Regions from separate parts of the Homo sapiens genome. Here region 1 is linked to region 2. Evidence: fine-mapped expression QTL. A gene starts in region 2. The other region holds a variant in brackets. All regions are shown on one strand. Distances are from middle to middle.

Region 1 (5,377 bases), 750 kb after region 2:
GAGCTGTGCTGAGGGTGCAGACACAGGGTCCACGTGCAGGGAGACCCCGGCAAAAGGGACGGGCAGCCCCTCACCCTCCTATGCACCCCCGGGGCTGTGCGCCGATGTGGGCTCCGGCCTCTTGCAAGCAGGCACTCCCTGACCATGACACCACCGTGCCCTGCTCACTTAGAGATCTGTAAGGGTCCGACAGGCCAAGGGGCACACCCCGAACAGGGCTGAGGCTCTATGCATCCGGGCTGTGGCTTGAGGCAAATCGGCTCTGAGGTTCTTGGGCTCTCTGTGGGTCACTGTTCCCCAAGAGCAGCCGCCACCCTCACCCTCTGTGTGTCCTACACTCTGTGCAGAGGCGTTTCTCGGACTGTTTATTATTTTTTTAGAGACAGGGTCTCGCTGTGTTGCCCAGGCTAGTAGTCTCAAACTCCTTGGCTCGAGTGATCCTCCCACCTCAGCCTCCTGAGTAACTGGGACTACAGGTGCCATTGTCCCAGCTTCCTGGGACTGTTGACAACACTTTAAGAGTTTTTGCAGCTCATCCCCAAGGAGCCAAATGGTCACAGCAACCAACCTGGGTAAATATCTGACAGGCACTTCCTCTGCCTGCAGACAGCAAGAGGGCACCACTGTGTCACCTGGTGACCTGGGCTGCAGGTCACCTTGCCAGGTCCGTGAGAGCAGGGATTGTGTCTACCCTGCTCCCAGAGGGCCCTTTCGTTCTGACTCCATTTCTCCTATGAATGAGTAAAGGTGTTGACAAGGTCTTACAGCAGGTACCCTCTGATCCTCAGTTTCCCCACCTCCAGTGCTGCCATAAGGGATCAGGGAGATCATCTGTGTGAAGCACCTGATATGGCACCAGCATTCCCCAACAGATGCCATTACTCTCATCCCACCACCATGGCCACTTCGGCTATTCTGATCTCAGCTCTGCCTCACCCACTCTGTGCAGTTTGGGAACCTCTAGCTGCGCTCTCTGGCAGCCTCATCGCACCTCTGTGACCCCTGTGAGCTCAGCCAACTCCCTGAGCAGACTATGAGCTCCTTAGGAAGAGGGGCAAAAGCAGGCCCTTGTACCTATTTGTTAAAAGAAGGAATGACTATTTCACAATCCCTCTGCCAGTGGTGGCAGGAGCTGCCGCGGCAGGAAGAGGACAGACACAGCCCTCGCCCTCTTGGGCTAGGTCTAGTGAGGAATCCAGCCTGCAATTCTGTGAGATAAGTTCTTGGGGGCACAAGAGCACCCAGGAGGGGTACCCTCCCCAGTCCAGGGGCAAGGGTAGTGGGGGGTCAGAGAAGGCTCCCAGAGGACTTGACACGCTGAGACCTGAAGGGGAAGGGGAAGGGGAAGCGAGGGGATTAGGAAAGACATTCCAGACAGAGGAAATGAACTTGTACCAAGACCTGAGGCTGAAAAATCACCTGCGTGACTTAGAAGAGGGAAAGTTGTTCCATATGGCAGGTGTGTTAACTGAAGCCAGATGAAAACCCCAGTCATCTGGCTGGGCACGGTGGCTCACACCTGTAATCCCAGCACTTTGGGAGGCCGAGGCAGGCTGATCACGAGGTCAGGAGATCGAGACCATCCTGGCTAACATGGTGAAACCCCGTCTCTACTAAAAATACAAAAAATTAGCCGGGCGTGGTGGCGGGCGCCTGTAGTCCCCGCTACTCGGGAGGCTGAGGCAGGAGAATGGCATGAACCCGGGAGGCAGAGCTTGCAGTGAGCTGAGATCGCACCACTGCACTCCAGCCTGGGCGACAGAGCGAGACTCTGTCTCAAAAAAAAAAAAAAAGAAAAAAAAAAGAAAACCCCAGTCATCTTCAGGCCTGTACAGGGCTGCACCAGCCTCGTGTGTGTGTTTCATTTGTTCATTCTTTCACGTGCTTCATGCACTCATTCCTTCTTGCCACCTGCTCCCCCATCCCACACCCTGCAGGCTCACCCGACAGTCCCCGTGTTCCTGCGTTGGCAGGCAGCGCTGACCTGCCCGTGGAAGTGCTCCCTGAGCTGCAAACAGGCTTCCGGCGTGTACCACTGCAAAGAGACAGACAGACGGACACATCATCCTGCAAAGCTGTGGCTCCGCCCTCGTAGCCAAGCAGTGAGGGGAGATGATCTTCCCAGCCTTCCTTCCTAGGCCTCACAGCTGGCAGCCTCATTAGCTTTCCCTGACCCATTTGTCATGTGTATCTTCTATTTCC[T/G]CAGCCTTGAGGCTCTGGGGCCTTGTGAGTCCAGAGGGGCGAGCCCAGGCAGGGACTTGGAGATCTGTGTCTCACCTGGGGCCGCAGTTCCCTTGCTGCATGCATGTGACAGGCCTGTCTGCTCTGGGTCTCAACCCTCTCAGGGCGAGACGAGTGGAGCTCTTTTGGTGCCAAGATCCTCCAAGATCCAATTAGCCAGGTGCAGTAGTACATGCCTGTGGTCCTAGATACTGAGGAGGCTGAGGTGGAAGGATTGCTTCAGCTCAAGAGACAGAGGCTGCAGTGAGCTATGATCATGCCACTGCACTCCAACTTGGGTGACAGAGTGAGACCCTGTCTCTAATCCATACCTTCTATGAATCTCTGATGACATTTTGTTTTAAAAACATGCATACATGTGCCTGGAAAATGTCCTAGGAGGCGCTTTCTGCTGTCCACGTTTCTTGGAAGGCAGACCTGAGCAGTGGTTTAAGAGCATGGGCCTCAGGGTCAGAAAAAACTGCACGTACCCCACCCACCCTCACCTGGTCTGTAATTAGAAAAAAATGAGATTAAACAAACTAAAGATGACCATTATTTTTTGCCATTGGATTGGCCCAGGCTAAATACAGAATGTGGCAAGGATGTGGGGAGAAGGACACCATTGAGGCTGTTGGTGTGATCTGTGTATGGCAAGGGTCCCGCCCCCCGCCCCCCACCCCTGCACAGCCACAGCCACCTGCTCTGTCCCTCTGAACACTGCTTGGATCCACAGCTCCCCTCCCTCAGCCGCAGTGTCTCAACCATGGATTCGGGCTCTGCCTGGCCCATCTGCCCTCTCAGTTCCAGCTGTGATTGAGGCAGCAGGGATGGTGAAAGGAGACTGGCAAAGGGCAAGTTACAGAAACTTATCGAGCTCCAGTTTCCTTAAATATTAAACAGGGATGCTCATAATAGCACCTTTTCATGTGGTCGTTGGAGGAGTAACTGAATAATGCAGGTGAGCAGCTTAGCCTGATAGTCTACTTTCCTGCAGAAGAGCAGCAGCTACCATGAACAAGCTGGCTGCTTCTTTCTGTCAGCTTCCATGACAGCTTTAAGCTAGGGACTGGCTCAGACACAATGGTCATTACAGGATGGCTGGAAGACTGTGATAATGAAGGCTGCAGGGTAAGAAGTGTGAGCTGATTTCAGAGACAGGGAAACTGAGGCACATGGCATAAAGGGAAGGACTTGCCTGGCAAGCAGTCTGAAGACCCTGCTCAACCTGACTGAATTTCTCAGGGCCCTGGGGTGCAGGATGAACTTGACCAGCAGTGGCCTTGATCCCTGACTATTATGGGCAGGAGGGGAGAATGCCACCTGTGAAACCAGGATGGATTCCCTAAGCTGCTTCCCTGGGGTAGGGTGCTCTGGAGCCAGACACGGCCAGGTCAAATCCCAGAGGTACCAGGAGCAGCTGTGTGATGTCAGGCAACCCTCCTTAACTCTGATCCTCGCCGTCTGCTCTGCCAATGAGGTTCTTCATCTCATGATACCTGGACTGTTTTGTGCCAATCACACTTTCCTTCCTTTTGACTCAAGAAAGACCAGTCTCTGTCATCCCTAGTTACCACTGTCAAGCTCTGCAGAGAGAATAATTGCCTGAGCCTCTGTTGAGATGGAAAACCCATGGGGAACTGTCCACAGGTCTGAGACACAAAGCCTTTCTCTGTAGGTGTGTGAAGAAGGAACTTAGGGAGGAAGGTAAAGAAGGGGGAAGGAGGAAGAGCCACATACTCCAAATACCCAGGACCTGTCTAGAGTCACCTCCTCCTCACCAGCCTGGCCACAGAATCCAAGATGCAAAAAAGGCCATTCCATGGAGAGGATCTATCCCTCTGCACCTGTCCGAAGCCACAGAGGCAACCACTGAGAGTAGGGGCTTATATATCCTGCCAGAAATATTTTCTGCATATATAAACAAATAGACATTTCTCCCTCTCCTTGTTTTCACACACCGGAGTGTGCTGCACACACTCTACTGCACTCTGTTCCATGCCCTGCATTTTTACTTAACGGTTTACTTTGGCTCTCGTTGCATGTCAGCTCCTGAAGAGGTTGCCTCATTCTTCCTCATGTCTGTGCCAGGAAGCATTACTTGTTTAACCAGTCCCCTCTCCGAGGATGTTTACGTTGTATCTTATCTTCTATTCTTACAAACTGCTCCAACCCCTATCCTTATGCACATTGTAAACCCATGCCAGAATATCTGCCAAGTAAATTCCTAGAAATAGAATAGCAAGGCCAGTTGTGGTGGTCCACACCTATAATCCCAGTGCTTTGAGAGGCCCGGGTGGGAGGATTGCTTGAGGCCAGGGGTTCAAGACCAGCCTGGGCAACATAGCAAGACTTCATCTCTATTAAAAAAAATTAAAAATTAGCCAGGCATGGTAGCACATGCCTGTGGTCCTAGCTACTCCGGGAGGCTGAGGCAGAAGGATTGCTTCAGCCCAGGAGTTAGAGGAGTGAATTATGATGGCACCATTGCACTCCAGCCTGGGTGACAGAGCAAGATCCTGTCTCTAAAAAAAAAAGAAAAAAGAAACAGAATGGCTGGATCTTAGAGGGCAGGGTCATCTTCTATATTGGTAAATATTGTCCACTGCCCCCTATGGAGGTTGTACTCAATTTGTATTCCCTGCTGCAATTAATATTGGATTTTAATACAGACACAAGAGAGCTGTGAGTTTTCAAGCTCATAGAGGCGGAATGGCAAGAGGAGAGAGCCCTGGATTTGGGGTCATGGAACTGGAATGCTGTTTTGATAACAACAACGATGATGAGAACAACAGCAACTATGACTGCAGGGGAGCTCCTGCATACCATGAGCCAGGCACCCAATATGAGAGGAATTACCTTCATGTAACAGTGGCTCTGAGAGGTTGAGTAATTTGCCCACAGCCACACAGCTTAATGACAGAATCAGAATGAAGGATTCACATCAAGGACTGTCTGGCTGCAAAATCCCAGCCCTTATAACCTCCAGGCCACACTGCTGCCCAGTGTCACCATTAACTTGCGGTCCCACCTTGGGCAGTCAGTGACCAGTCTCCCAGCTCCTCAAGGTAAATCTGACAATGGACAGACCTCCTTGATTCACCTGCTTTACTTCTAGGCATGAGTGTAGAGTGGGGAGAGCTGATGTGGCTGCAGG
Region 2 (5,377 bases):
GGAACCAAGATGGCAACAAAAGTGACCTCACTTTTGTCCCTCACTGCTCATTATATGCTAGTGATAATGCATGCTAAAAGACATTCCCACCAGCACCATGACAGTTTACACATGCCACGGCAATACCCAAAAGTTATCTTATGTGATTTAAAAGGGGGAGGAACCCTCAGTTCCAGGAACTCCGGATCCCTTTGCTAGAAAATTCATGAATAACCTGCCCCTTATTTAGCATATAATAAGAAGTAGCTATACATATAGATAGCTGGTAGTCCAGGAGTGCTGCTCTGCCTATGGGGTAGCCCTGTAAACCCCATCCACCTGTATGGATGCTCTATGAAACCCACTTTTCTGTACTCTGTTGCTCTAATAAACTTGCTTTGCTTTCACTCTTTTCTGTTGGGTCACTCTCAAATTATTTCCTGTGCAAAGCCAAGAACGCTCTCAGGCTGAGCCCCAGTTTTGGGGCTCACTTGCATTAAGATAAGTTGCAGAAATTGTAGCATGTCTTTCATTCTTACGGTGTCTCACTAATAGTGTGTCAATCTTTCCTTATTGTATGTACTCATTTTATCTTACTTAAATCATAAAGATGATATTCTTCTACACCATCTTTTAAGATCTTTGTGGCCTTTTCTTTATGGCTGTAATCTATGTAGAACTGACTTTTGTGTGGGAGTTAAATAGGAGCCCAGTTTGATGTTTCTCCTTACATGGTAGCCAGCTGCCCAGCACCCCTAGTTGAATGAGTTCTTCTTTTCATGTGGATTTCAATGCTCCCCCAGTCTGATATTGTGTCCATGTGTGTGGAGAGGTCTGTTTCTGGATTGCTCTTTTTTCCATTGGTCTGTTGTCTGCCATGTTCTGATTCCACTTTGCCTTAATTGTGTAGCTTGATCATGTGTCTTAACATTGAAAAAGCAAATCCTCACACCTTGCCTTCTACAAGAAAATGTTTTGACTCTTCTTGGTCATTTAGAGTCTCATATAAATGTTAGAATTAGGTTGTCAATTCCCATAGAAAAATCTGTTAGAATTTTGATTGGGACTGTGCTGAATCATCAACCAGACAGAACTGTTACGAGCACAATATTGCCTCCAGTACAGAGATGCTGAGACCAACTCGATCGGGGAGACCCTAACCCAGCGGCGCTAGAGGAATTAAAGACACACACACAGAAATATAGAGGTGTGAAGTGGGAAATCAGGGGTCTCACAGCCTTCAGAGCTGAGAGCCCCAAACAGAGATTTACCCACGTATTTATTAACAGCAAGCCAGTCATTAGCATTGATAGATATTAGATTAACTAAAAGTATACCTTATGGGAAACAAAGGGATGGGCTAAAATAAAGGGATGGGTTGGGCTAGTTATCTGCAGCAGGAACATGTCCTTAAGGCACAGATCACTCATGCTATTGTTTGTAGTTTAAGAATGCCTTTAAGCAGTTTTCCGCCCTGGGTGGGCCAGGTGTTCCTTGCCCTCATTCTGGTAAACCGACAACCTTCCAGCATGGGTGTTATGGCCATCATGAACATGTCACAGTGCTGCAGAGATATTGTTTATGGCCGGTTTTGGGGCCAGTTTATGGCCAGATTTTGGGGGGCCTGTTCCCAACACAGAGACATGGTCAGTCTCTTCATTTATTTAGTTCTCCAATAACGTTCAGGGTGTTAGTTTTCTCTGTAGAGGTTCTCTGTAGAGTACATCTTGGATTTGTTTCTAGGTACAGGAAACTTTTTAAAAATATATTTTATATAGACCAGGGTCTCACCACGTTGCTCAGGCTGGTCTTGAACTCCTGGCCTTGGCATCCCAAAGTGCTGGGATTACAGATGTGAGCTACTGCACCCAGCCAGGAAATGTATTTTCTATTGCTCTCCCACAACTCCCACCACATCTTCTCCATCTGCATGAAATCATATTCTCTGTATGGTATCTGTAAAGTCATATCTTATTCTGAGAAATGTCCATTTCTGCATCAATACTCATCGCATGTATTCTAAATATACTTTGTCTTGTTTGTCTTGTATATAGGTTATTGTAGTTACTTGACCTGTGCCGAAATGTTAAATGTGTGTAAGTTCATGTCCTTCATTCTGGCTTTTTATTCACTAATAGTCATCAGCATCCTTACTGTCAATACAAGAGATGCTCCTTCTCAATATTTTGATATGGTAGTACAAGGATTCCAAAGGAGGAACCTTCTTTTTTAGCAGCTGTGTTTTTTGTTTTGGTTGGCAATTCACTAAGGACTCATCTCATCATGTTATGAGGGAGACATTCTTGGAAGCATGGCTCCTTTTCCGACTCTTCTCAGCACACAGCTGTCACCCATGCTTTGCTGTGAGATGGGGTGCCCTACAGATGGATGGGGTTTACAGGCTTAAGGTTACTGATGTCTTTTCATAAGACATTATTGCCTTGTTTGTTTGTTCTTCAGAAAACAAATTCTAGGGAGCCGGGGTTAATCTGTTCCATAGTCTGAATGTGTTACTGAAACACCAGGGGTTTTGTCTGGGTCCCATTGCATGCTGCACAGCCAATCACTGCCGGGAGGAAGGGCTTTATTCAGGTGCTGCAGCCAAGGAGAATGGGAGATAAGTCTTGAATCCATCTCCCTGACCGGCCAAAATTGGAGGGTTATATAACAGTGGAAGGGATGTAGCTATGTTTGGGAAGGAGTTAGGGAGGGGTAAGAACGCAGCCATGATGAACGAGGGATCCAGTGTCTCCCTGTCTGGATGCAGTGATCTAGTGAATTTGAGAAAGGATTACCCTGTGGAGGGAGGCAACAGGAGGGAGCCTTCTCTCTGGAGCCCCTGGGCATGCTTTGAATTTGAGCCATATAAATCTATTACCTATTAAACTGAGAAGAGAACTAGGTACGCAAGAAGCCAAGTCACTGGGGCGGTGGGGACGATACTTCTCATTTGTAGCCTTTCAATTTGGTGCTCTGTCTGGCTGTTTTGAGAGCTAAACTGTAAGTTGAGACCCCATAGTCACCAGATGAGGCCTGAGGTTCCAGGACTGAAGGGACAGAGTCGGTTTCTGAAACTGACAATCTCTGTTTCTTTTACATGGGCTTCAAACATAGAAATGAAGTGGCTTGGCCTCACTCGCCAGGAGGGGAAATCTGGGCAGTTGGCTGGTGGGTTGACATTGTCCCTCACACCAGTCCTGTAAATTACTCAGGAAGGCCCAGGCCTGGAGAACTAAGACTTGGCTTTCACTGCTTAGCCTGGAAAGGAACTGAGATGGCCAAAGAGGGCTTTATAGAAACAGTGTCAGTGGCCCAGAAATCCTGGAAATCTCCCAAGCTCCAAGGATCAGTTGATCTCTGTGTGTGTCTCCTGCACATAGAGAGCTCCACTCAGTTCTGTGGTCTTTGGGCTGGTGGCCCCAGGGGCCCCTCCCTTGGCACTTGTCCAGGTAACTGAAAAACCACTCTGATATGAGGGTTGGCCCTGCATTAATTTTATCTACTGCATTAGAGGCAGTAGGGTTGTCTCATTGCCTGCCCTGCCAGCTCCTGTGAGTGGTAGAGCCAGCCCTTCAGTGTGGGGCTGGTGGGGGAGCAGTTCCCAGTGAAGGCATTTGAGTTGCATCCCAGCAGGATACCACTCGTTTGCCCTGCTGCACAGACTGGCCTCACTGGCCTCCTAGCACTTCCCGGCTCCATCTGGAGACTTCTAAGTAGATACCTAACCACACTTCCTCATTGTCTCTGTCCCTGCCTCCCTATCCACTGCCATCAAGGCTGGCACATCAGGAACAATAGTGCCCTCCGAGGAAGGGGTGAGGGAGAGATTTCACAATTTATCAAGACCTGAGTGCAGGCACAGGCCACCTGCTGTCTCCTCCCTTCCCATGGCATTCCTTGGATTAACCGTGCCTCTGAGGATGTGAGATGTCCCTGTCATGCCTCCGTGATTGAGTATGTGGGAAGGACTTCTGATGAATCCCTTCATTTCACAGATGGGAAAAACTGAGGCCAGTAGAAGGAGCAGAGTGGGAGCCTGATCCTGATCTTGCTGGAATCGGGCTCCCAGAAGGGAGTGGGGTCTGGAGGCTGGCGGTGGGGGGTGGTGGGGAGGGAGTCTCTGCAACAAAGCAAAATTCCTGGAGGGGATGAGGTGGGACACATGCAGGGTGGGAAGTCTTGGGAAAAGCCTACATTGCTGGGCTGTCCAGAATGGACAAGTACCGAGGGGCCCCTGGTGCCACCAGCCCAACGGATCACAGAACTGGGTGGAGCTATGTCCAGAAATGGAAACCTCAGCTAACAGGACCTGGGCTGAAGCAAAGGGGCCTGTGGGTGTTGACCAGGTGGCCTCAGGGAAGGTATCCCAGAAGAATGGTGTGTGTGAGGCTTATAGTGGACAGATGGGGGACAGGCCTTGAACCTACAAAATGAGGTTCAAGGCCTGCCAGGCTGTCTGTCTGTTGCAAACAGTGGCCCTGAGGAGAGTGAGGGTCACCCTGTAGGCCGGGGGTCTTTCTCAGCAGATGACATAGTACCACCAGAGTGATGGAGAACAGGCAGATGGACCCCACACCTGTCTGTCCTGTACCTCAGAGTTTGTGGCGTTACTTGGAAATGCATTTCCAAGGCTGACCCTGCAGGTCCTGGGGCAGTCAAACAGGGGTTTGAGGAAGAGACCCACCACCTGGTGGGCAGTGGAGCCTGTGCTTTGGAGGAAATGGAGCTGGCCATGGGATGGGGGTCAATGGGGGCAGGTGTGGCTTGAAGGTGGGATGTAGCAGCTGACCTCCCCAGCAGGCAGGCCGGTTATTAGTCCCAGGGGACTTAGGAACACTTTGGGCAGGGCAAGCGGATAGGTCCCTGACCCACAGACACCCCCTTTGTTCCTGGAGTCCAAGGACCCATGACCTTGTGGATGCCCCCAGGGGGCCACAGAACCTCAGACACTCACCTGCTTTTGGAGGACAGCTCTCACCAACCCTCCTGCCCTCACACAGCAGGTGCCCAGCCTGCCCTGCCCATCTCCTCGGCCCTCAGAGTCTAACTTGCTCATGTGAGGCCACAGGGCCCTTGCAGGGGGCATGGCATTGAGTGTATGACCATGCCCTGGATCCTGGGGTCAGTGTCCTCATCTGTGAAATGAGGGAGTTGCATTAGATGCTCATGGGGCACTGCGCCCCTGCTCTCCCTATCTGTGACACAGCCGAGAGCAAAGACCGCTGAGGCGGGGTGGGAGCCAGGGGGCCAGCCAGGGCTTGGTGGGGTGTGGGGCCCGAGGCAGAAAGAGTTTGTTGTGGGGGGAACTGGGGGTCCTGGGCAAAGCTCAGCCTCAGGCCTTGGGAGGCTGGGGCTGGGGGCACCCAGGAGCTGAGGGGATGTGATAAAGGCCAGGGCC

The links. PIP is the estimated chance that this variant, and not a neighbour inherited with it, causes the effect. A credible set is the group of variants that fine-mapping cannot tell apart.
Region 1: its variant is the best candidate, but not a certain one, in a credible set for the expression of MIF-AS1 in cerebral cortex (GTEx, PIP 0.51).

Annotation. Positions count from the first base shown.
Region 1 is chr22:23,146,721-23,152,097 of GRCh38, reverse strand. RAB36 (RAB36, member RAS oncogene family) reads right to left here. Exons shown (of 11, transcript NM_004914.5): 3 at 1,944-2,035. It also overlaps a transcript of RSPH14 not described here. Among named protein-coding and RNA genes, the nearest start is that of RAB36, 3.9 kb to the right of the region's middle. RefSeq lists enhancers at 1,624-2,124, 2,125-2,625. The variant T/G (reference allele first, on the strand shown) is at 2,203.
Region 2 is chr22:23,896,446-23,901,822 of GRCh38, reverse strand. It overlaps MIF-AS1 (MIF antisense RNA 1), which reads left to right and starts at 2,893. Exons shown (of 3, transcript NR_038911.1): 1 at 2,893-2,979.